Linked DNA regions of Homo sapiens. The protein of the gene in region 5 purifies or fractionates together with the protein of the main gene of each other region. This does not show direct contact. Each region holds a gene or a part of one and is shown on either strand. Other genes may lie near its edges.

Region 1 (3,500 bases), on a different chromosome or scaffold from region 5:
TGTGAGTGAGCTGTGCCCAAGATTGAAAGCATGTAGTCTAAATGTTAGCCAAGATTATTTATGGGTGGTGCTACTAGATGATGTGCATTTTCTTTTATACTTTTATATGTTGTCTTAATCTTTTACAGTGGGTATGTATTACTTTCATAATTTGTGAAAGCCTTAAGGCTATTTTTATTTTGAAACTTAAGTAATAATAATAGCTAACACTTTTTGTTTTGTTTTGTTTTTTGAGATGGGGCCTTGCTCTGTCGCCCAGTTTGGAGTGCAGTGGTGCAATCTCAGCTCACTGCAACCTCGGCCTCCTGGGTTCAAGTGATTCCTCTGCCTCAGCCTCCCAAGTAGCTGGGACTACAGGCGCATGCCGCCATGACCACCTAATTTTTGTATTTTTGGTAGAGATGGGGTTTCACTGTCTTAGCCAGGATGGTCTCCATCTCCTGACCACATGATCCACCCGCCTCAGCCTTCCAAAGTGCTGGGATTACAGGCATAAGCCACCGCGCCTGGCCCAATAATAGCTAACACTTACAGTGTACTTAACGTCCTAGATACATGCATTGACTTGGTGCATTCTCGCATTGATCCTATGTGGTAGATATTATTTTCACAGATGAGGAACCTGAGGCACAGAGGGGTTAGGTGATTTGCCTAACATCACAGAGCTAGTGGAGCCAAGATTTGAACCTGGGTAGCCTGGCTCCAGCTTGTATGCTCTATACTACTTGTCAGGGTGGCGGTGATCAAAAAATTAGTTACACATGCCTGTCCTGATTTGGAGAGAGACATGTGTAGAATGCTGTAGAGTCCAGCCACTGTGTGTGATTGCTGCCTGGATTTGTGTGGTTAGTTGTCCTTTCATAACCTATCCTTTGGTTTGGAGCTGGCATAGTAATTTGTAAATCCTGGTACTGTTTGTAACAACAGATGGTTTTGTCAGAAAATGGCCCTCTTCAGATTGCTATTCATTGTTTCCTAGCAACCTATGGCTAAACTACATTTTTTTTAATTAAAAAAAAATCAGTGTTTTTGAAGTAGTGTTTTATTATTTTTGAAAAACAGAAGAAAAAAATTTACCCACCATCCTACTACCTCCACTGTTATTATTTTGCTGTTTTTCATTCCAGTCTTTTTTCATGTTTATTTCTTTCATGGTTGCAATTTTAGTAGTCAAGTAAGTATGCAGTTTTGTATATTTTTTTGAGTATTTAATTTTCCTATTAGAATAATACATGTTCAATATTTGGTAAAATCTAAAGAAAATAGACCTCATCTGCAAGCCTACTATCAGAGTTAGCCACTGTTAACATTTTAGGGTTTTTTTCGCCTAGTCATTTCCTTCTAGTAGTTGATATATAAAGACTTTTACTAAAATTATTTTACATTGTTTCGTAACTTGCATTTTGCATTTAATGCGAATGAACATTTTCTTCTGTCATTTAACATTGCAAACATGATTTTTATTTTTATTTTTTATTTTATTTTGAGTCAGGATCAGTCTTTGTTGTTGCCCAGGCTGTAGTGCAGTGGTGTGATTACGGCTTACTGCAGCCAGCCTCGACCTCCCCAGGCTCAGGTGATCGTCCCATCTGAGCCTCCTGAATACTGGGACTACAGGCGTGAGCCACCACACCAAGCTAATTTTTGTATTTTTTGTAGAGATGAAGTTTCAACATATTGCCCTGGCTGATCTCGAACTCCTGGGCTCATGCAATCTGCCCACCTTGGCCTCCCAAAGTGCTGGGATTATAGGCATAAGCCACGACGCTTGGCCTGCAAACATAATTTTTAAAATGACTGCAGAGTCATCATTGGGATGATTGACGTAATATGTTTATTTCACTTACATTTTTGGTCATAACTGTGGGGATGGTGTTCTGTCATCTTGTTTTATGCTTTCTCTTTTATATTGCGCCACACTATTTTGAAGATATATGTCTCAGATCTGTATAATATTTCTTCCATTAACCCTGCTTGTATTGCCTCCCTCGAACAAACTTCCCCGAAGTGCTGAGTATGGAGAGGGGAAGATAAGAGCATTGGTAGTCTTGGAAATGGTCCCAAAGGAAGTGAAATCAACCCCATTTCTGATTTTGCCAGTTGTTAATTGTCCCCCTTTTAACAGATATCCTGGGTAAAGCTGTTAAGCAGTGTTTAACAGATATGTTGCTTTTATATGCCCACCCCTCTAGGCTCAGGCAAAGCAACGAGCTGGCAGAGCTGGGAGAACAGGCCCAGGGAAGTGTTACAGGTTGTACACAGAACGTGCCTACCGAGATGAAATGCTGACCACCAACGTGCCGGAAATCCAGAGAACCAACTTAGCAAGCACAGTGCTGTCACTCAAGGTAGAAATCACTGTCTTGTTAAAATGGGTTGGTGGAACAGTCCAATCCTGGCCTTCATAAATGAATTTCAGTTTTATGAACCTTGTTAAATACTTTAGTAACCTCATGAAAGCAGTCCCTTTGAGTGAAATGCAAATGGCTGTGATAACAGCCTCTCACGGCAGGTCTGGGGCTAAGTTGGCATGTCTGCTGTGAACACACATTTTTTCTTACCATAACAACCAGCAGGATATTAGGTTGTAAAAGGTTCTAGTTAGGAGCATTTTCTAAAAGGAAATTAGAAAAATATAATCAATGCCAAACTGTGGACACACACACCTAACCTCAACCACTTTAGCGCTCAGATCCAATTCTGTTCTTTTAGAACGAGAGAAAACCCCCTGTTCAAAAACTTTGCAAGGGAACTGTCAGTACAGATTTCAGACTGGCTCTCAGGGGCTTGGTTTTCATTCTGAATCATTGTTCTTCCTCTCTCAGTCCCCAGTGAGGACTTCATTCTCTTTTGGCAGGAGGAGCTGTATGAGTAATTTCCCAGCTGATGGCGTTTCCCCCGACACTGATGCTACCCTGGAGCCCTGGTACTTTCTGGTGCAGAGTGCTCTGTTGTCATTTATTATTTATTCCCTGTCAAAGAGGCTAAAACAGAGCTTTGGAAAGAAAAAAGAAACCTACTCCAGTCTCTGAAGTGCCAACAGAGAGGCATCTGTGGCTTGGACTTCAGCTCCAAACTGCGACTTTGGGCAAGTTTATTTACTTTGCCCTCTGCTCTGTGTTCTGCTCTGAAAAAGGGGCTGTTAATAGTATTTGTTGGAAAGATAAGTGAGATAATGTAGGTAAAGGCACTTGGCACAGTGCTTGATGATTGCTAACATAATTCATCATAGTTATTATTCACACAATAAACATTTATTGAACACCTGCTGTGTTTATGGTCACAATCACTTTATGAGAAAGAAATAGAAAGCTTAGGTCCTACCACATCACACTTTATATACACTTGAATCGTGCATCATTCAGTCGTTTCTTTTATTCATCGAATTAGCTAATGTATTGAACACATGCTACATGCCAGGCATGTAGATTGCACTGTGGTGGTTTTGTGAACATAGTTTTTACCCAGTGTGAACTCTCTGAAAGCAGGGGCCATATCCT
Region 2 (3,395 bases), on a different chromosome or scaffold from region 5:
TTGGCTGTGTGACCTTTTACCCCTGTGGGCCCGCACCCGTTCCCGCCATAAAACAGTGCTTCTGAGAAGCACACTTCAGATTCCCACTCGCCCTCTCCCACCCTCCAATTCACCCAAACGTTAGGCTGCTGGGTGAGTGCGCCCGGCTGCTGGGCTGTGGGGTGCCCTGTGTTGCAGGGGAGGTGCGCCCTGTGGGGAGGTGGGGGAGGTGTGCTGTCTTGTGAGATGCATGGTGGGGTGAGGTGCGCTGTGTAGGGAGGTGGGGGGAGGTGCGCTGTATAGGGAGTGGGGGAAGTGCTATGTAGGGAGGTGGGGGAGTGTGCTGTGTAGGGAGGTGGGGGGAGTGCGATGTGTAGGGTGGTGGGGGGAGTGCACTGTGTAGCGTGGTTAGGGGAGGTGCGCTTTGTAGGATGGTAGGGGGAGAGTGTGCTGTGTAGCGTGGTGGGAGGAGGTGCGCCATGTGCGCCGTGTAGGGAGGTGGGGGGAGTGCTCTGTGTAGGGTCGTGGGGGGAGTGTGCTCTGTAGAGTGGTGGGGGAGTGTGCTGTGTAGGGAGGTGGGGGAGGGGAGGTGCACTGTGTAGGGAGGTGGGGGGAAATGCTTAGTGTAGGGTGGTGGGGGGAGTGCGCTGTTGTGAAGTGAGGCACACTGTGCCGTGTGCCATGAGTTAGGAAAGGAGGAGGAAGGCAGAAAGGCAGCTCTGTGCAGAGGTGGGCAGTGGTGTTGGCTGGACCTGGGCTGGAATTCTGGGGGTCACTAGTTAGGTTTCTGTCTCCAGCTAAGCTGCAGACCTCTATTTTCTCCTCTGTGCAATGGGAATAACAACAGTGTTTCTCATAGGGCTGTCTTTAGGATTAACGGAATAATCCGTTGTTGAGCTTATTAGCACTGTGCCTGGTACACAGCAGCCATCTAATCTGCTGGGCCCTCCCTGATGAGGGTGGGGGTCAAGGGAAGGAAAGGGCTTTGAACTCAAGGAAAATAGCCACCTTTTTCCTCTCCTCACAGGGAACCCAGTTTGGCCAGTGGGATACTGCTGGTTTTGAGAACGAGGACCAAAAACTGAAATTTCTCAGACTTATGGGTGGCTTCAAAAACCTGTCCCCTTCGTTCAGCCGCCCCGCCAGCACGATTGCAAGGCCCAACATGGCCCTCGGCAAGAAGGCGGCTGACAGCCTGCAGCAGAATCTGCAGCGGGACTACGACCGGGCCATGAGCTGGAAGTACAGCCGGGGAGCCGGCCTCGGCTTCTCCACCGCCCCCAACAAGATCTTTTACATTGACAGGAACGCTTCCAAGTCAGTCAAGCTGGAAGATTAAACTCTAGAGTTTTGTCCCCCCAAAACTGCCACAATTGCTTTGATTATTCCATTTATGCTGGAGATTACAAATTTTTTTTGTGAAAAAATCAGATCTTGGTGAGGACCTCGAGCAGTAAGATATAAATAACTCCCATAAGCTTAGCGTTCCAGTAATGGAACACTAGGCATAAATGGTTTATTCAGTTGTGCAAATGAAAGCCATCTGACAGTTGGCTCACATTGAACACCTGTGGAGATTAAGGACGAGGACAACTATATTGATGGGCTTGGATGAACTGGGGCAGGGCAGCTCATATTTCGGGAGCCAGGAGAACGAGTGAGTGCTAAAACCTCCTGTTTTCTGTGTTAAACATTCCGTCCCTGTTTGAGACATCAGTATGTACAGTTAACTTTTGTTGAGTGTTTAGCAGGTACTAGGGACATACTAGTGTTTTCCTTAATGTATTTAATCTTCATAATTATGAAATGGGTGCTATTATTAGCCCCATCTTATAGATGAGGCAACTGAGGTTCAGGGATAAAGTAATAAAATTGCCTGGGGTCACCCAGCCACTAAGTGCAGGGTGTTGTACTTTTGTACCCGAAGCCCTAAGTTCACTATTCGCCACTCTGAATGTCCCCTTTAGGGAATTTCCACCAGAATCCTCGTTGGGGATTGAAATGTCTTTAGATGGAGGAAAAAGTTTTATGACAAGTCTGCATCTCTGATAAAAAGTGGAGTGAATGAGGAACGGAGAATCGCAAACTCCTTTTCCTTCCTTTTCCTTTCCCCTGTCATAGAGCAGCTGTAGGCAGAGAGGTGTCTGAGTTGTTACCAAACACATGTGACTGAGCTGCTGCTGCTGGGAAATGTGCCTCTAAACCAGTCCTGCCTTTTCCACTGGTGTCCCTTCGGCCCTAAGTGCTGAGGTAGGATTTTTGTGCTTTGACTGGATTCTGAACAAGGCATTTTAGGAAGAGTGGTTAGTCCCGCAAATGAATCAATGGCAGATCCCAGGGACGTGTGTGTGTGTTTTGAGATAGGCTCTCACTCTGTCACCCAGGCTGGAGTGTAGTGGCATATCACGGCTTGTTGCAACCACTACCTATCCAGCTTAAGTGATCCTCCCACCTCAGCCTCCCAAGTAGCTGGGACTGTGGGTGTGCACCACAACAACCAGCTAGTGTTTAAAATTTTTTGTAGAGATGGGGTCTCACTATATTGTCCAGGCTAGTCCCAAACTCCTGGACTCAACTCATGCTCCTGCCTCAGCCCCCAAGAGCTGGGATCACAGGTGTGAGCCACTGTGCCCAGCCCCAGGGATGTGTCTGATGAGATTCTTTTTTATCACAAGGAAGAGAATCCCAGGTGACTTCTGTAGGTGGATATTGAATGCCAGGAGGAGATGAACGTGTGGAGATGACACGGGAAGTTGCCTCATCGGCTGTGGGGACAGCGTTTCCAAGCCTGGACTCTACAGCAAGCCTCAAAGAGCTCCAGGTCCAGTGGCCCAAGTCGCATGTGACCATCTGTGACCACCTTCTTTCCACTCACCTAGCTTTTTGCATCCCAAAATACAGGTTCTGACTGGGACATTTTCACGATCGTTTGGCCTGAACATGCCTCCTACAGACATCCCAGCCCAGGCAGGCCTCGATGGCCAGAAAGTTCAGTCTCACGTGGCAGGAAGGCCTGATTAGGGCCTGGTTCAACAGCTCGCCAAGGAAGCATTCTCTCCATCATCTCCAGTGTTGGCTTCATCAAGGCTAGTACAAAGATGGCAGTAACAGTTCCAGGCAGCATATCAAGACCCTAGAACATTCCAGAGGAAGAAAAGCCTTTTTGTGTCTCAAGGAAACTTCCAGAAGCCTCCATTGCTGGGCAATGAGTCATCTGCCCATAGCTGCACCCGCCCCTGTCATGGGAAGGCTGGTGATTCCCTTCAGTCAAGAAGAGTGGATGCTGGTGAAGTGGCCATGGTGTCCACAGCTGCCCATTGGGCAGAGGTGAGGCAGGCACTTCAGGCAGTTTCCCTGGCTCTGAACCCTGATCCGCAAGCATTGGCCAGGTCAATAGTTGGACAAGTATGTGCTAC
Region 3 (4,131 bases), on a different chromosome or scaffold from region 5:
TAGTTGTCAGTGGGCTAGCCTAAGCTTCTTTACTTTGTGGAAGAAGAATTCTCAGCAGCAAAACAGGCTAAGCCTTAATGCACAAACACCTTTCAAGCCCCTGCTTATCTCGTATTTGCTGATGTCCCAATGGCCAAAGCAAGTTACATAGCCAAAGACAGAGTCCATGTGGGAAGGAAGAATACAAGGGTGTGAACAGAGGAATGTGTGATTCATCAAAGGCCATACCTTTGATGAATTCAACAATTTACCATAATGTTACAAAAAAAAATCTTCCCAAATCTCAGCAGTTTACCACAACTAAGAATTATTTCTTACCCATGTCATATTCCAATGTGGGTTGGTGAGGACACTCTATCACACTCGTTCAGGGAATCGGGAACCTGTTATCTATCTAGTGGTTCCACCGTTGTCTAAGAACTTCCAGAAGACCAGGAAAGACAGAGAAGGGAAGATTCAAGGAAGGTGTTATAGACCAATCCTGGAAGTGGTATACATCAGTTCCAGCAACATTCCAATGGCCGGAACTCAGCCATGTGGCCCCCAGCTAACTGCAGGAGAGTTGGGAAATATAATGCCTAGGAAGAAAAGATACTTCTTGTCACCAAATATTCCGCCCCCTTCTTACCACACACAGAATACACATATACCCTCCCCAGACACCTGGAATTCTATCTAGTCACTGCATCCAGGATCTGTTGTTGATACACAGTCCTCTTTATTAGATCCAGATGTATATCCTCATTGCCAGGTAACTCATGAACTATGTAAATATGTACTACATACCTGCCCCCACTCAGCTACCCTGTGTAGCGTGATAGAGCAAGGGTGGCATACTTGCATTAAAATCTCCCATTCAGAAAAGGGAAGAATGCAAGACACACAACAGTGGCTCATTCTTTAGTATATGTATTTTTTATGATATTTTTCCAAATATTGCATGGGAAATATATACACTAAAAATTATTCGTTTATCTGAAATGCAAATTATTAAGCATTCTGTATTTTTATTTGCTAAATCTGGCAACCCTCCTCCCACTAAAATATAAACTCCATGAAGGTAGGAACCTTGGCTCTCTGGTTCTCCAATGTACATCGAAGGCGTGGCATAATGCCAGGTCCACAGTAGAAGCCCATACATGCTTACTGCAGGAATTAATGAAGGACTAAACGAAGTAGCAAGTGAGTGAATAAGAAGATGAGGAGCGACCCTTGGTGGGCGGCGCGGGAAGAGAACCGCACCATAGCTCCGCAGACAGCCTCCTTTAGGCGCGCAGCGGCGGCCGCGCTGAGGTCACGGGCGCCGGCCCTGGTGACGTCATTACGCCCGCGCTCCTCGCCTGGCCGTGATATCAATGGCGCAGGCTTCACTTCTGCTGTGGCGGTGACTGAGGCCTTTCTGGTGACCTCAGCCCAACACAGGCCGTCTCCGGAGCTTCCCGGTAGTGGCCCCGGATTCCCACGGTCTTTGTCATTGGCTGTCAGCTAGCAGGCCTGGCCGCTCCCGTGCGGAGAGACCATCTCTTCAGGGCAATGTCCAGGCCGAGCAGCGTCTCCCCGCGGCAGCCGGCTCCTGGCGGTGGCGGAGGCGGCGGCCCCTCGCCTTGTGGCCCTGGGGGCGGCGGCCGGGCCAAGGGGCTGAAGGACATTCGCATTGATGAGGAGGTGAAGATCGCAGTCAATATCGCGCTGGAGCGCTTCCGATACGGGGACCAGAGAGGTGAGGTTCCGGACAGGGACCATGCTGGCAGTCAGGATACCCCCCTCACCCCAGCGCCCCCCAAACGGCGGCCCACCGAGTGATGGGGGTGCCTCCGAAGAGGGAGGGAAGACCCGGGCCACCGTCCGGGGCGGGCCTCAGCGGCGGCACCCGGGTCTGGAACGCGGCTGTTGGCCCTGCGGTGGAATGCGAGGTGCTCTGCGGATCAATGGGGTTATGGGCACTTTGCTCCCTAGCTGAAAGTGTTTTTCCCCCGCGTCTTTCAGCAGCCTTGGGCGGTTAAGCCACCGTGTTTCAGATATTGGTTAGCCCTAACCCTTTTTAAGGGGGTGTCACCTAATTGTGGCACGTTTAAGCTACAGATGTAGAAGAGCAGAAAGAAATCAAACATATAAATAAATGCACCAGCAATACGTTTGGACCCTGAAGCATCACGCTACCCACTTAAATTAAACTTGTTTGGCACACGAAGCATCTTCCACACCTCTTGAGGTTAGATAGCCACTTGTCTTGGGTCATATAATGCAGAACCAGCAACTGACCTGCGGTGACCTGTGCAGTCTGTTGAGGGCTCATTCGGACCTGCTGGCTTAGTTAGGGGACCTCTTACTCTGGAATCTTATAGTCCAAAACGGGGAATGTTCTAGACAGAGAGATTCTAAATTCACATTAAAAAAAGAGAAAGCCTCAGCAATATATAACAAATCCCTCTGAAATAGTGAAATACGAATTCTGTACAGTTTTGAAAGCAAAGACAATGGAGTTTCATGTTGAGAATTCATAATATTTGAACATATCTCATCATTGAAGAAAATAAACATTTTGTTAACTAAACAAGTAGGGACCAAGTTAAATATGTTCAGTCATTATACCAACTCAAAATTCCAGAACAAGTAAGAGGAGTCGTTTTTGGTGAATATCAGAGGCCTTTATCACATTTAGGTTTAATACATAGCTGTCTTTTTATTAATATCAGAATTCTGATAGACATTCAGTAGTTATTGAATTAATAAAATATCTTAATTTTATTAATTTACATAAATAGAATATGAAATATAAAGTTAACCTCAAATAAAGTATAATAAATTTGATTGTCTATGTATGTTTTTCATATTTTGTATCTGTGTGTTTTACTTGAGAGAAAATTGCCTATCTACAAATTTTACTACTTTGTTTTTTTTCCGTGTAGAAATGGAATTTCCTTCTTCTTTGACCAGTACTGAAAGAGCCTTTATTCATCGACTCAGTCAGTCTCTTGGTTTGGTCTCTAAAAGTAAAGGGTAAGCTGGTAGCTTTTCTTATTTTTTTTAAAAAAGATTATTTGCCCAAAAAAGGGAGAAACGTTTCTGAGTACATTTAAGTACTTATTACTGTTTTAACTTCACATTCTTAATTGTATCATATGTAGATAAAAGATTCAGGTCTGTACCAAATTCAACTCTTTCCTCTTCCCTCTGTCTACCTCTTCCCCCCTTTTTTGTTTTGTTTTGTTTTTCCCTAGGAAAATGCTTTTTCTTCTACCCAGCTTAGGTTCCTTGGCTGGGACCCTGCAAATTAGACTGATAAAAGACATATTAACAAGAGAAAAACATAAGCTTATTAAGACATGCATCATGCATACATAGGGGAGAACTCGATAGTAACTCAAACATGGGGCTTATGTGGCATCTTAATAAAGAACAATGAATTTATTTAAAAAATGACAAGACAAAGGAAAAGGACTTTGAACTTGTAGGTGCAGTAAATTGTGGGAAGGTATATGTGGGGAAACTAATGGAAGATATGTGTTCTTTTAGCAAGGTTGGTTATGTAGGTTCCCCTGGTGCTGTCTCTATTAAGAGTCTAGAGTGGTTTCTCTTGTTAAGAATAGTCCTTCCCTTTCTGGTAAAGCAGGGGAAGGCGGAGTTTTTCTTATGTCTGCTTCTTCTCGATTGCCTTCAGCTCAAAATAATCCTTATGGCAGAGTGACATATTTTTGGGTGGCATACCGTGAACTCTTTCAAAGGTAAATTTTAAGATGTAAGAAAAAAATAGTTTAAAAGTTGAAGTTGATTGCTTGAGAAAAATATTTTTATTTTTTGATAGAAATCTCATTTGAAAAATGGATGTACAAAAGATAGTTGCAATTATTTATGGAACTTACTTCTTTTACTGTTACTGCAATATAATAATAAGCTTTAGAGCATATGTTCATTGTTTTCTTTCCTACCAAGTCAAGGATCTGATGATTAGAAATGATTTTAAAAAGTGGTACAGGAGGAAATTGTTTTGTTTTGTTGGGAGGATCACAGAGTTACATTGAGGGAAAAGTCATTTGAGCCATCCAAATTGAAAAACTCTAAAATTCTGTGGCGCTATTTCATTTTGTTAATAAGGATGGTGGGATCAATGTAAAGGAAGCTTTCTCACTG
Region 4 (3,500 bases), on a different chromosome or scaffold from region 5:
AGGCTGAGTCATATTCCATTTGTGTGTGTGTGTGTGTGTGTGTGTGTGTGTGTGTGTATGTGTATGTATATAACATATATTTTCTTTACTCATTCATGGACACTTAGGTTGATTTCATATCTTGGCTTCTGTGAATAATGCTGCAATGAACATGTGAGCACAAATACTTTTCAAAGTAGTGGTTTTATTAATAAACCCTTTGGATTATACCCAGGAGTGGAGTAGGTGGATCACAGAATAACTTGTCTCTCTTCACATGGTTTTCCCTCTGTGCATGTGGACCCTTGGTGTCTCTTTGTTCAAGTTTCTTCTCATAAAGACACCGTTTGTGTTGGATCAGAGTCCACCCCTATGGGGCTCTAACTTAATCAACCTCTTTAAAGGCCCTGTCTCCAAGTATAGTTATGTTCTGAGGTACGAGGCATTAGGGCTTCAACATAGGAATTTTGGGGGACACAACTCACTTAGCCTATAATACCATCCTACAGGGATCTTCTAAAGTATAATTCTTCCCTCCATGTTGCCAGGTTTGCAAGAAGCTCAGTACCGTTTGGTGACTGAGATACAGAAGCAGACCATTGGATTGGCTTTGCAAGGTAAAGATGTACTTGGAGCGGCCAAAACTGGATCTGGCAAGACTCTGGCTTTTCTTGTTCCAGTAAGTACATTGTCATTGGGTCAGACTGTCTGTTATACAATTTTATAACATTCTGTGCCCAGATGCAGATTATATAAAGAGATGTTTTCATGTTAGATTTCATGATAGATTGGCTAGAATGCGAGCTTCATCAAACAGGAGCCACATGTGTGTCTTGTTCTCACCATTTTCCCCAGGTTCTAGCACAGTGCCTTGCATGTGGCAGGCACTCAATAACTTACTGAATGAATGAACTATTGTGCCTTGACAAGTCATTACATTCTTGATGGAAGTGGAGTGCTCCAGTATGGCAGGTTAAAGTGGTTCTGTGCTGCAGTAGGACTGGTGGGAGACAGTTTCTGCTCTCACCCTTGTGAGCCTGCCAGTGGCATTTATACTTGCCACCTTGTTTAGGATAAAGCTGAAATATGCTCAGTTTAAGGAGCTTTAGGCATTTGTTGAGAATTTTCTGGGACATTGCTATCGGTCTTTTATGGCAGCAAAACAGTAGAGCTTCTTAGGCTTTCACTTCCATCTCTGTTACGTTGGTCTCCTAATTTTTCATTCCTATAAAATGACCCAGAAAAATCTCATTTTAGTTTTTGTTCCAAATATTGCAAAAACCACTTTTCTCTTAAATCCTAGTGTGTTTTTGCCCCCTTAAAAAAAAAGGCTCCCTATAGCTAGATAATTCAGTTACTATATAACTACAGCAGCTACATGGGTGAAAGTTTATTTACTTATTTTTATTTTTTTTTGAGATGAAGTCATGCTGTGTTGCCCAGGCTGGAGTGCAGTGGTGCAATCTTGGCTCACTGCAACCTCTGCCTCCCAGGTTCAAGCGATTCTTTCTGCCTCAGCCTCCCAAGTAGCTGAGATTACAGATGTGGGCTACCACGCCAAGCTGATTTTTGTATTTTTGGTAAATACGGGGTTTCATCATATTGGTCAGGCTGGTCTTGAACTCCTGACCTCAAGTGATGCACCCGCCTCCTCCTCCAAAGTTCTGGGATCAGGCGTGAGCCACTGCGCCCAGCCAAAAGTTTTAGTGTGGTTATTTAGAAAATGATAAATATTATTCTTAAGTGTGTTGTAAAGGTCTTTGGGTTGTACATACCTTTCACTGATAGCCAGTTTCCTGATGGCATGGCTCTGGCAGCAGCTGAACTACCGTGGGGTTTCTTTTCCCTTTCCTCTGAGTTGGGGGTGGATGGTTCTGATGGAAGATAAACAAAATCATTTACTTTGGACTGGATAAAACTTGAGTGGTATGCCTTCTGCTTGGAAGATCCCTTTGATTTGGAGGGGCAAGGTTGAGATGCAGGTCAAAAAGCTGACTTCTGATGACTTACTGAACATGAATTTGCTGTCTTTTTGAGGTGCTGGAAGCCTTATATCGTCTGCAATGGACTTCAACAGATGGGCTGGGGGTTCTCATAATATCACCTACGAGAGAACTGGCCTATCAGACCTTTGAGGTTCTCCGAAAAGTAGGAAAGAATCATGACTTCTCAGCTGGTCTCATCATTGGTGGAAAGGTTTGTCCTTTTGTCTATGTCCTTCCTTTCCTTCTGTAACCTATACTGGAGTACTGTGGCCGATGACAGGGAGGCAGCAGAGACTTCATCTAAACAGACTGACCTAGACCAGGGCCTCATGGGATAGTAGCACTTGGTGTGGTCGCTGCTATCTACGATCTGGTTGCCAATTTTGCAGGCCCAGAAAGTCCATTTTTTTTTGTCGGGGAATCTGAATTGATTAGCCTCTCTAAGACATATTTACTCTAATCCTGTAAAGTTATTTGTTGATATTCATTGGGAAAGATATTTCCATATATGAACTAGTACCTTTTAATAAGGTATCTATCTAAGAGGCTGAATAATTCAGAGGATTGCTACATCAGCAGCGTAAGAAAGGAAGGTAGACTCTTTAGAGGAATGTTTATAGTAGGTCAAGATAAGACCTGCTGCTCACTTTTGTTCTATCTTATAGCACATCTAGAATGCCTCTATCTGCTAGAATCTCCACTAGACTGTGAGGATAAATACTTCAATTTTTATGCAAACATGCACAAAAGAAGAAAGAATAGCATCACAAACCCTTACGTACCTGTTGCCTAACTTTAACAATTAACAACATTCTGTTTTTTCCCACCGCCTCCAGGACTGTGAGAAGTGGTTCTTGTATCAAGGAGAGAACCTCGGCTTTTTTCAGTTCACAAAGTACAGTCCTTGAGCGGTGTCAGAGTCTGTTCAATGTCCCTGGGTCCTGAATTAAAGAATGAGAGTGATTCCAGTTTATGTCAGTTCTGATCCAAATAGGAAATCCTGACTTGGAGTATTCATTTGATTATTTTTTTTTCTTAGCCTCAAAATCCTGGGTATGAATAAGAATTTAGAACTCTGAGCTCCTTATGTCTTCCTGTAAAGACTTTTATTTAGCCCAGAAATGTGGATATGGTTCAGAAATACAAGGGAAAAGTTATGTTTATTTCCAAGAGTATCTAAAATGTTGTGATGAAATGCCCATGCAGATGGCTTTTATAGCTTTGGTACACAGGCTGCTGAGAGTGATGTGTCTGTGTAATCAAAATAAATAACTGTTTTCAGGATCTAAAACACGAAGCTGAGAGGATCAACAACATAAATATACTCGTGTGCACACCAGGTCGGCTTCTTCAACACATGGATGAAACAGTATCTTTTCATGCTACCGACCTCCAAATGTTAGGTGAGTCAAATCAATTTCTAATTTAAAAAAAAAAAAAGCTCAGACTTAGGAGAGAGCCCTTATACATTTTTATGATAGAAATTTTATGTTAGATAAATGTTATGATTCAAAACAAACTTAAAAATTACTGAAA
Region 5 (3,500 bases):
AAAGATTACCTCTACATACGAAATGCAATGCTTACATCATCTCTGTATTTTGACTTGTGAATCACCACGGCTTTGGAAGGAACAGTGGATTCTGGTTTCCGGATGTTAAACTCAGGCTTTGGTCTGGTCTGTTCTTGAAGATTTTTCCACTCATCTAAAGTCATCTCTTGAACTTGGGTTTCTTCTTCTACCTCCAACTCAGGAACTCTATAAAGAGATATATAATCATAAAGAATACTTTTTGATGGTACTAAAATGTCTACTTTATAAAGAAAAAGTTATAACCATTAATTCAACATATTTTTGTGGTACTGCATTTCAAATGCAAATAAGGTAAGGAAATCTTTGACTCACAAGCTTCCATATTTCATTTTCAACATTTTATGTCATCACTGCCAACAGAAGATACTTCCTATCTGTGTTCAAATCAATCTTTGAAAAATGGGAACATCACCATCCTGATGACATTAACATCACACTTCACCACTGGCACTCCCTTCCAGACAGCATGACAGACAAAATGAGGTAATTATGGACAATGGGTTGAAATAAAATACAGGAAACCATAAACAAGTTTTAAAGCAGTGGCTCATGAATGCATACTTTTGCAAATATCCTCTTTAATGAGTTTTAAAAAGAAAACAAAAGACAGAAATATAGATTGAGAGCAAAGAATTCAGAGTCCAGAAATAAACCCTCACATTTACGGTCAACTGATTTTTTTTTTCCAACCGTGGTGCCAAAGACAATTCAATGGAGAATGAAAAGTATTTTCAACAAACGGTGCTTGGGCAACTGGATATCCACACACACCAAAAGAAAGAATGAAGTTAGACCTACCTCACACCATAAATACAAGAGCTAAAATATAAAACTCTTAGCAGAAAACCTAGGCAGAAACTTTCTTAACCCTGGACTGGGCAATGGTTTCTTCCACATGACACCAAAAAAACAAGCAACAAAAGTACATACATTGAACATCATCAGATACTTTTATACTACAAAGGACACCATCAAGAAAGTAAAAAGACAGTCCACAAAATGGGATAAAATATTTACAAATAATATATCTCACAAGGGACTTGTATCTAGAATACATAAAGAATTCTTTATGAACAGCCAAGCGTGGTGGCTCATGCCGATAGTCCTAGCTACTCAGGGGGCTGAGGTGGGAGGATCGCTTGAGGCCAGGCATCTGAGGCTGCAGTGAGCTATGATCACACGTGTGAATGGCCACTGTGTTCCACCTTGGGCAACAGAATGAGACACTGTCTCTTTAAAAAAAAAAAAAAGAATGCTTTATGAATTCTAGATACAAGTCCTCTTTAGTTGAGACAAATGACCACCCTCCCCCCAAAAAAGGCAAGGATCTGAGTGAACATTTTTCCAGAGAAGATATACAAATAGGCAGTAAGATGTTGCACATCATTAGCTATTAGAGAAAGACAAGTCAAAACCACAGAGCTGCACCAGTCCACACCCAGTGGGATGGTTAGAACCAAAACGACATTTGACAAGCGTTGGGGAGGATGTGGAGAAACTGGAACCCACATACACTGCCAGTGGGAATGTGAAATGGTGTAGCCTCTTTGGAAAGCAGTCTGGCGGTTCCTCAAAAATCTAAGCTGAGTTAGCCTCTGACCCGGAAATTTCACTCCTGGGTTTATACCCAAGAGAAATGAAAACACACATCCACATGAAAACTTAAACCCAAGTGTTCACTGCAGTGCTATTCATAATAGCCAAAAAGTGGACACAACCTAAATGTCTATTAACTAATGAGTGGATAAACCAAATATGGCACATTTTTTGGAATATTATCTGGCAATAAAAAGAAACAAAGTATTAATACACATTACGACATGAACAAACCTTGAAAAAATGATGCAAGTGAAATAAACCAGGCAGAAAAGACTTCTGTGTATGATTCCATTTACATGAAATATTCAGAGGAGCCAGATTCACACAGACAGGAGGCAGGTCAGTGGTGGCCAGGGCTGCAGGGAGGGAGGATAGGGAGTGACTGCTGAATGGGCATGGGGTTTCCTTTTGGGATGATAACAACCTTCTGGAGCCAGATCATGGTGATGGTTGCATAACACTCTGAATGTACTAAATGCCACTGAATTGTACACTTTAAAAGGATTAAAATCGTAGATTTGAAAATCATCACAAAAATACACACAAAAAAAGAAAAACAGAAATGAAGACTGGCACATGCTACAACATGAATGAAGCTGAAAACTTGATGCTAATAGTTAAAATAAGCCAGGTGCAAAAGGAACATTGAACGATTCCACTTAGATGAGGCACCTAGAATAGGCAAATTCATAAACACGAGTAAAATAGAGATTACTACATGCTGAGGAGAAATGGGGAGTTAGTGTTAAATGGATATAGAGTTTCTGTTTGTGATGAAAAAGTTCTACAAGGCCAGGCACAGTGGCTCAAGCCTGTAATCCTAGCACTTTGGGAGGCTGAGGCAGGCGGATCATGAGGTCAGGAGTTCGAGACCAGCCTGGCCAATACGGTGAAACCCCGTCTCTACTAAAAAATACCAGAAAAATTAGCCGGGTGTAGTGGAATGTGCCTGTAGTCCCAGCTACTCAGGAGGCTGAGGCAGGAGAATCGCTTGAACCCGGGAGGTGGAGGTTGCAGTGAGCCGAGATCGCACCACTGCACTCCAGCCTGGACAACAGAGTGAGATTCCATCTCAAAAAAAAAAAAAAAGTTCTAGAGATGGATGGTGGTGATGGTTACACACAATATGAATGTTACTGATGCCATTAAATTATATATATTAAAATGGTAAAAATGGCAATTTTTATGTTATTTTTACTGCAATTTTAAAAAATTAATAATGTAACATACCCCAAACCATCCATCCATGCATTCAGTCGTTTACTCATTTATTTGTTTGATACAGGCTGGGTTTCACTCTGTTGGCCAGGCTGGAGTACAGTGGCATGATGATGGCTCACCATACCTTCAACCTCCTGAGCCCAAGGATCCTCCCACCTCAGCTTCCTGAGAGTAGCTGGGACTACAGGTACGAGCCATCAGGCCCAGCTAATTTTTACAACCATTTTGTAGAGACGGGGTCTCTCCATGTAGCCCATGCTGGTCTTGAACTCCTGGCCTCAAGCTATCCTCCTGCCTCTGCCTCCCAAAGTGTTGGGATTACAGATCTGAACCACCACACCTGGCCTATATACTTAGAGATTTGAGTGCTATAGTACGAGAATTATATCTCAAAAGTGTTTAAGGGGAAAAAACAGGCCGGGCGCGGTGGCTCACACCTATAATCCCAGCACTTTGGGAGGCCGAGGCAGGTGGATCATGAGGTCAGGTGTTCAAGACCAGCCTGACCAACATGGTGAAACCCCGTCTCTACTAAAAATACAAAAATTAGCTGGGTGTGGTGGCACACGCCTGTAATCCCTGTAATCCCAGCTACTCGGGAGGCTGAAGCAGGAGAATTGCTTGAACCCGGGAGGCGG
Region 6 (3,500 bases), on a different chromosome or scaffold from region 5:
CTCTGCCTCCTGAGTAGCTGAGATTACAGGTGGCCACCACCACGCCCAACTAATTTTTGTATTTTTAGTAGAGACGAGATTTCACCATGTTGGCTGGGCTAATCTTGAACTCCTGACCTCTGGTGCTCTACCCACCTCGGCCTCCCAAAGTGCTAGGATTACAGGTGTGAGCCACCATGCCCAGCCCTGAAACACAGTCTTAATTTTCTTTTCTATGTTCATATTGTTGCAGTAAACTGAGGAACGGAGAGACTAATACGGAGTACAGGAGGATTTGTTTATTTTAGGCACGCACCGGCTCGGAGGATTCACATCTAAAAGCTGAGCCTTGAACAAAGACTGAGCGGGTTTTTATAAGTGGCTTTACAGAAGCAAAATAAAAGCAATTAATCATACAGTAACAGGTTACATAATCTATAGCGTAACATAACTTGTGACTTAGCCAGTGGCCTTGTAGCTGCATTAAAAGAAAAACAAGAACTGGCTAAATACAGACATTTGTAAAACATAATCATGCTAATCATGCTTAAGAAGCCCGGGAAAAGAGTAACATTAAAAGAACTTGTATTTCTCTTTTTTTTTTCTTTCAACCTTGCTCTGGAACCAGGGGTCGGGGGGAGGGTGGTGTCTGGAGCTTATTCCTTTGGCCTTGGCTATTTGGACAGCGTTATCTTCTAACTGTCTTCAAAGTGAGCTACTAGGCAGAGGAAAACTTGTTCTTTTCTTTTTAACTCTTGCCTTGCCACATTCTGGGCCTTAGTTTTTACTTTTCTTGGAGTGAATAAATGCAGTACTTATTATTATTTAAATTTCTGCCTCAATGTAGTCACTTGCTCAGTAGACTGTCTAGGTTTCTTCATTTGTCCTTGCTAACAGAGCTAATCTTGCCATTTCTATTTTCCTCTTAATGTGCCCTAGTATCTCCTGTTCTCAAATTTACATTCTCGTGACAGTTGATAAGGCAGAGAACCAAATCTGCCACCAAAAATCTCATTCTCCTACTTTTCTTCCTTTAACCCCTTTTCCCCCTCACTTTGGTACTTATCTTTGGAAGGCAGCAATTCTTATTTATCATCGAAATCTTTTATTTCCTTTTTAAATTTGTAGCAGAATCATTCAGAGATAAAAATAAGTAATCCCACTGAATTCCAGAATCATGAAAAGCAGGAAAGCCAGGATCTCAGAGCTACTGCAAAAGTTCCTTCTCCACCAGACGAGCACCAAGAAGCTGAGAATGCTGTTTCCTCAGGTAAACGTGGAATAAATGGTATGTCAAGTAACTTTAAAAACCAAAATTGCTAGAAGTAGCCAGGTACATTAATTTCCTAGGACTGTTGTGACAAAGCACCACAACTGGGCAGCTTAGAACAACAGAAATTTACTCTTTCATAGTTCTAGAGGCTGGAAGTCCAAAATCAATGTGTCAGCAGGACCATGCTTCTCTGAGACTCTGGGTGGACTCCTTCCTTGCCTCTGACTACTTTGCGATGGCTGTCGACGCTTGGTGTTCCTTGGCTTGCAGCTGCATCATTACCAGTCTCTGGCTCTGACAGCGCATGACATTCTCTCTCTATGTCTTCTTAATAGGACAGCAGTCATATTGGATTAGGATCCACCCAAATAGGCCAAGCATAGTGGCTGGTGCCTATAATCCCATTACTTTGGGAAGCCAAGTCAGGAGGATTGCTTGAGCCTAGGAGTTCAGGACCAGCCTGGGCAACATGGTGAGACCCTGTCTCTACAAAAAGTCAAAAGAATCAGCCAGCCATGATGGTGCACACCTGTGGTCCCAGCTACTCAGGAGGCTGAGGTGAAAGGGTTGCTTGAACCCAGGAGGTTAAGGCTGCAGTGGGCCATCTTCATACCACTTCACCCCAGCATGGACAGAGTGAGACCCTATCTCAAAAAATTAAAAGAACATCCAAATGATGTCATTTTAACCTTAATACATCTGAAAAAAAATTCCCATATCTAAATAAGGTCATATGACAGGTACCAGTGGTTAGGACTTCAACATATCTTTTAGGGGGCCACAATTCAACCCATAGCACCATGTTATAGAATTTCTTTTTTTTTTTTTTAGACAGAGTCTTGCTGTGTTGCCCAGGCTGGAGTTGCAATGGTACGATCTTGGCTCACTACAACCTCCACCTCCTGGGTTCAAGCGATTCTCCAGCCTCAGCCTCCCAAGTAGCTGGGATTACAGGCTCGTGCCACCAGGCCCAGCTAATTTTTGTATTTTTAATAGAGACGGGGTTTCACCATGTTGGCCAGGCTTGTCTCGAACTCCTGACCTCGTGATCCACCCACCTCAGCCTCCCAAAGTGCTGAGATTACAGGCGTGAGCCACCGCACCCGGCCTTCCTTTCGCTTTCTTTTGCCTACTAAACCTCTGCTCTTAAAAAATAAAAAATAATAATAAATAAATGAAAATAAAATATCTCAGTATTAGTTTCACCTGGGCAAATCTGCTAGGGCCCTGAGCCTTGCCAGAGGAGGAGTTAGAGAGACTGAGAGAGGATAATTCATTCCAGTATCCACCAAGCAGTTAAATCTGGAATTTCTAATCCTGAGCCTTCTCATTTTCCCTAAAACTTTGAGTGTCATACTGAATCTAGAAAATTACAGGATTCCTTGGGTCTGAGATGGGCTTGGGAATCTTCAGTTTTTAACAAGTCTCCCAGGTAATTTTTAATTTTTATTTATTTATTTATTTATTTATTTTTGAGACAGGGTCTTGCTCTGTTGCCCAGGCTAGAGCACAGTGGCACGATCTCAGCTCACTGCAGCCTCAGCCTCCTGAGTACCTGGGACTATAGGCATGCACCACCACGCCCGGCTAATTTTTGTATTTTTAGTAGAGACAGGGTTTCACCATGTTGCCCAGGCTGGTCTCAAACTGCTGAGCTCAAGTAATCTGCCCACTTCAGCCTCCTAAAGTGCTGGGATTACAGGTGTGAGTCACCATGCCCAGCCAGCATTTTTTAATACAGGCCAGTTTTTTGTCCTCTGAGTTGGTTTGTCTAATATGTCCTCATGCTTAGAATCAGACTATGGGCTGTTGGCAGGAATCCCAAAGAGCAATGCTGTTGCTTCCTCAGTAAGCACCCTAGGAGGCACAAGTGCTGGTTTTTCCTATGGCTAGTCACGTTAACTTCCATCAGTTAGTTATGGTGGTGTCTGCTAGGTTGTTTCTTTGTGAAGTTACTCTTTTACCACTTGGAATTAGTAAGTATCCTGTGGAGAGTTACTCTACATAAATATCCTTTCTTTGTTTTGTTTTGTTTTGAGACAGAGTCTCTCTCTGTTGCCCAGGCGGGAGTACAGTGACAGGATCTCGGCTCATTGCAACCTTTGCCTCCCAGTCTCAAGCAATTCCACTGCCTCAACCTCCCAAGTAGCTGGGATTACATGTGTGCACCACCATGTTTTTGTTTTTTCAGTAGAGACAGGGTTTCACCATGTTGGCCAGACTGGTCTCGAACTCCTAATCTCAGGTG
Region 7 (3,972 bases), on a different chromosome or scaffold from region 5:
GATTACCAGCCATCTCAAATTCTGTGGTTGTCAAAGCTCCCCTGGGGTTGTTGCTGGTTGGCCCCCACTTGCTTTGAGACTTTGATGCCAGGGCAGGTTGAGAGGAACTGACTTCAGCTGAGTTTGATCTTGGATCTGGGAAAGAGAAATGCTTTGAAAATCACGGCAACTCTGGGAAGTTTAAAAGATATTAATGTATCCTGGAGAGTTTGAGGCTTTGCAGAAACTTATTGGCAGAGCAGAATGATTCTGAAAAATGCTACATCAGTGAGGGGATATTTGATAAGGTATTTTCTGCCAACTCGGGTATTCACTTAGCATTGTTTATCCTTTAAGATATGTATACACATACTTCCTCTGTGAGTTTACCCTACTAACAAAGTTTTATCCCCAGCCTCAACCTTGCTTTGGGTCTCCAGGCCCAAGTTTCTCACCATCTCTTGGATGATTGCTCCAGCCCACTCTGCTGCCACCTGGGATCCAACATGTTCAAACCCAGCTGTGAACTTCACAGAGTATTAAAAGAAAGAGCCTTTGCTTCAGCAGTTTATGTTATTAAGACGGAGGCTTGGGTCATGTTATCTCTCTCCACCAATGTGTAAGGTGAAAGTCCTATTAGGTAAGAGTTTTTGGAAGACCCGTGTTTTGTGCTTTTTGGGTTTCAGTATAGGGTTTTTTCCTACAGGGCTAGAGGGAAAGTACCCCAGCATTTCCAACCAGTGGGGTGCAAAATTATTTGGGTCTACAGCTTTACCTATTCCTTTCAAGAACATTTTTGAAAAAACACATCTGTTAAGTTGAACCATGTGTAACTGCTGAATGCTGATGTTTGGCCGTTTTCTACTTAAAAAAATAGGCCAGCAGTTTGTAAATTCAAGCTAATATATGAACTTTTTGAAAAAGTTGTTCTTGGACACTAAAAGGTAAGACGGACGCCAGATTTCCAGAGCAAGGGGAGGAGAGACCCGAGCAACATCACTTCCCTGAAGACCTAGCTCCTGCGCGCGGCCGGGGACTGTGACTCCACATGCCGGCGTTACTTACCCGGGCCCGCGCCTGACTCGCCACACCTCATTTTGCGGCCGCCGTAAAGCGCGGATGCGCGGCGTGGCCACGCCCCTTCAGTGCTTGTGACGCAGGCGCCCTGGGCTTTTTGGGCGCGAAAAAGAAGCAGTCCTGGGTTGTACCCGGCGCAGCTGGGAGCGGCTGCTTCCTCCGGGGTCGTATCTCCGCCCGGCATGGGGCTGCTGGACCTTTGCGAGGAAGTGTTCGGCACCGCCGACCTTTACCGGGTGCTGGGCGTGCGACGCGAGGCCTCCGACGGCGAGGTCCGACGAGGCTACCACAAGGTGTCCCTGCAGGTACACCCGGACCGGGTGGGTGAGGGCGACAAGGAGGACGCCACCCGCCGCTTCCAGGTATGCAGGGTCCCGCCCCGAAGCCGACCGGCTGCGCGGGCCTCCCCCTAGCCTTTTGGCTACCGGGCCCCGCCCCGGGGGAGCGCGCTGAGCTCCGCTTGGCGCCTTCTGATCTTTATTTCTCGCGCCGCCGTTTCGGTGGGAGGAGCAGGGGTGATTTACGGATACTCTTTGCCCTCAGATCCTGGGAAAAGTCTATTCCGTTCTCAGTGACAGAGAACAGAGAGCAGTGTACGATGAGCAGGGAACAGTGGACGAGGACTCTCCTGTGCTCACCCAAGACCGAGACTGGGAGGCGTATTGGCGGCTACTCTTTAAAAAGGTAAAGGACTCTGGAGGTTTCTTTGTGACTGTTACCATCATTCAATCAACAAACCTTTATTGACTGCCTCTAAGATCTTGTATTTTGTGTTAATTTTGTAGGAATTAGGAATTTTGAGTTTGGCCTTGAAATACAGATACACGCACGCTTACTGAAACGGGCTTTAAATTTCCTGTTAATGTGATTGTTGCACTGAAAAGGGCCGATTTATTTTTTTTGCCGGATGCGCTTTATTTTACATATCCAAATGTAAGTCCTGATTCCGGATCACCTCTCACTCTTGGAAATTTCACTTAAATTTCCCTTCCCTGGTCCCTAGTTAGCAGTTAATGAAGATTGGATTTAAAAAGGAGGACTCCGGAGAAGCTTAGGCATAGAAAATCTGGTTCAATAATTTCAACTCAAGCAACTGTTGTATTGCAGCAATTCAACACCCAACTCTAGTTTTACTAACGTACGTTTTATTTAAAGTAAAATTCCCAAAGTTAAAGCAAATCTCCTTTATCATCAGATATCTTTAGAGGACATTCAAGCTTTTGAAAAGACATACAAAGGTTCGGAAGAAGAGCTGGCTGATATTAAGCAGGCCTATCTGGACTTCAAGGGTGACATGGATCAGATCATGGAGTCTGTGCTTTGCGTGCAGTACACAGAGGAACCCAGGATAAGGAATATCATTCAGCAAGCTATTGACGCCGGAGAGGTCCCATCCTATAATGCCTTTGTCAAAGAATCGAAACAAAAGATGAATGCAAGGAAAAGGAGGGTAAGATTTTGAATACTGTGGATTTATATTTTGACTGCTTCCAAAAAGGATTTGAGAGTATTTACAGCAGTAGAAGTAAACATAAAACTCCAGAAATAAGGACTAGGGTTAACTTGGTCTATAGTTTCGATCTAATAAAATGGGCATACCAGTTCATCAAGAGAAACTTTTTCTAGCATGTTGTGCTCAAGATGATTTTTATTGCATAGATTGTTTAAATATTACCATAGTAAAGTAGCACTGAAATATTTTTTCATGTAGGCCAATTCTTGTAGCATTCCTGAGGCATTCCTCAGGAGATAAAGTTAGTGGAACCCGGGTACACAGGATGGGCAGTGATCCTTACTCGGTTGAGGGGGTAAGAAGAGAATGGCAGACACCGTCTTGTTAAAAGTGCAGATGTTTGGGCCTTTGCCCCGAATTTGATTCTTGAGTTGGATACAGAATTTTTCTTTTCTTTTTTTTTTTTTTAAAGAAAAACTTTAGCTTAGCGGTCCCCAGCCTTTTTGATACCAGGTACCTGTTTTGTGGAAGACAGTTTTTCCAGTGACAGTGGGGGTGAGGAGAGTTGGGGGGGTGGTTCAGGATGAAACCTTAGATCATCGGGCGTTAGATTCTCTTAAGGAGCACACAACTTTTAGGACCACTGCTGCCTTCCTGAGTGCCCTCAGGAACTTTTCTGCAGCTTTTACATAAGAGACGCTGGCAGAGAGAAAGCTGACCTTTTTGTTTCCGGTGAAAATTTGAAGGGCCTGTTTTGCCTAGATAAGAGGCTGCACCCTTTCTGGTGAGCTTGAGGGGAACGGTGGAGTGTATATCAAGACCATTTTGGTTCATAGGCTACATCTGCTAAGACTCAAGCTGACAATTATCTTAAGTCGTTCATCATTTCCTGAGATGAAACTGAGCACAGCTGCATTCACAGTAGACTGTTAGCTTGAGAAACTTCCCTAGAATTTGAGGAGAAAATGGCATAGTTTTGATAGACTGTTCAACAAACCTTAGGGGGATGCTGAATTTAAAGAGAGAATTTGAATACAAGGAAACGGTGTCTTATTGGGATAGGGGGTCCTAATGTATCATCATCCTCAGTATTAATAGCATTAATTGCTACTTAGAAAATTCACAAGGGGTGTTGGGGCCTCTTATAGTTGTTGCCCTAAGGTGTTCTTGTGATATTTTGTAAACAATGCTCTAGGAACACTTGGCAAAGGAAGGCTGCTTTGAAATTAGGTAAATAGATGTTAAAACTGAGTTTATTGATGTTGGTTCTTCTGACTACTGGGGAGAAGTCATTTTAAACTGGGGTTGTTCACAAGGCACCACCAGTCCCATGGAGTAAATTGGGTTTCCAGGAGAGAAATTGGAAATACCTGTATCCTGGCAATTGCATCATTTGCCTTTTTTTTTTTTTTTTCTCTTTTTTCTAAGAGATGGCATCTCCATCACCCAGGCTGGAGTGCAGA

Evidence for each region.
Region 1: the proteins of HABP4 (region 5) and DHX8 purify together in Homo sapiens (affinity purification with mass spectrometry, with the first as the bait; one large-scale study listed by BioGRID). This does not show direct contact.
Region 2: the proteins of HABP4 (region 5) and KNOP1 purify together in Homo sapiens (affinity purification with mass spectrometry, with the first as the bait; one large-scale study listed by BioGRID). This does not show direct contact.
Region 3: the proteins of HABP4 (region 5) and YTHDC2 purify together in Homo sapiens (affinity purification with mass spectrometry, with the first as the bait; one large-scale study listed by BioGRID). This does not show direct contact.
Region 4: the proteins of HABP4 (region 5) and DDX10 purify together in Homo sapiens (affinity purification with mass spectrometry, with the first as the bait; one large-scale study listed by BioGRID). This does not show direct contact.
Region 6: the proteins of HABP4 (region 5) and NUSAP1 purify together in Homo sapiens (affinity purification with mass spectrometry, with the first as the bait; one large-scale study listed by BioGRID). This does not show direct contact.
Region 7: the proteins of HABP4 (region 5) and DNAJC9 purify together in Homo sapiens (affinity purification with mass spectrometry, with the first as the bait; one large-scale study listed by BioGRID). This does not show direct contact.

The regions. Positions count from the first base shown.
Region 1 is NC_000017.11:43,514,975-43,518,474, forward strand, and holds part of DHX8 (ATP-dependent RNA helicase DHX8), read left to right. Parts: intron 1-2,192; coding exon 2,193-2,348; intron 2,349-2,857; exon of another isoform or gene 2,858-3,088; intron 3,089-3,500.
Region 2 is NC_000016.10:19,704,833-19,708,227, reverse strand, and holds part of KNOP1 (lysine-rich nucleolar protein 1), read left to right. Parts: intron 1-1,006; coding exon 1,007-1,318; 3' UTR 1,319-3,395.
Region 3 is NC_000005.10:113,512,363-113,516,493, forward strand, and holds the start of YTHDC2 (3'-5' RNA helicase YTHDC2), read left to right. Parts: upstream 1-1,331; 5' UTR 1,332-1,533; coding exon 1,534-1,720; intron 1,721-2,908; exon of another isoform or gene 2,909-2,909; coding exon 2,910-3,000; intron 3,001-4,131. UniProt on the Homo sapiens protein: 3'-5' RNA helicase that plays a key role in the male and female germline by promoting transition from mitotic to meiotic divisions in stem cells.
Region 4 is NC_000011.10:108,675,069-108,678,568, forward strand, and holds part of DDX10 (probable ATP-dependent RNA helicase DDX10), read left to right. Parts: intron 1-527; coding exon 528-658; intron 659-2,016; coding exon 2,017-2,175; intron 2,176-3,246; coding exon 3,247-3,367; intron 3,368-3,500. UniProt on the Homo sapiens protein: Putative ATP-dependent RNA helicase that plays various role in innate immunity or inflammation. Plays a role in the enhancement of AIM2-induced inflammasome activation by interacting with AIM2 and stabilizing its protein level.
Region 5 is NC_000009.12:96,481,169-96,484,668, reverse strand, and holds part of HABP4 (intracellular hyaluronan-binding protein 4), read right to left. Parts: intron 208-3,500; coding exon 36-207; coding exon of another isoform or gene 12-35; exon of another isoform or gene 10-11; intron 1-9. UniProt on the Homo sapiens protein: Ribosome-binding protein that promotes ribosome hibernation, a process during which ribosomes are stabilized in an inactive state and preserved from proteasomal degradation.
Region 6 is NC_000015.10:41,349,881-41,353,380, forward strand, and holds part of NUSAP1 (nucleolar and spindle-associated protein 1), read left to right. Parts: intron 1-1,107; coding exon 1,108-1,249; coding exon of another isoform or gene 1,250-1,267; intron 1,268-3,500. UniProt on the Homo sapiens protein: Microtubule-associated protein with the capacity to bundle and stabilize microtubules. May associate with chromosomes and promote the organization of mitotic spindle microtubules around them.
Region 7 is NC_000010.11:73,244,456-73,248,427, reverse strand, and holds the start of DNAJC9 (dnaJ homolog subfamily C member 9), read left to right. Parts: upstream 1-1,172; 5' UTR 1,173-1,238; coding exon 1,239-1,418; intron 1,419-1,599; coding exon 1,600-1,740; intron 1,741-2,251; coding exon 2,252-2,506; intron 2,507-3,923; exon of another isoform or gene 3,924-3,972.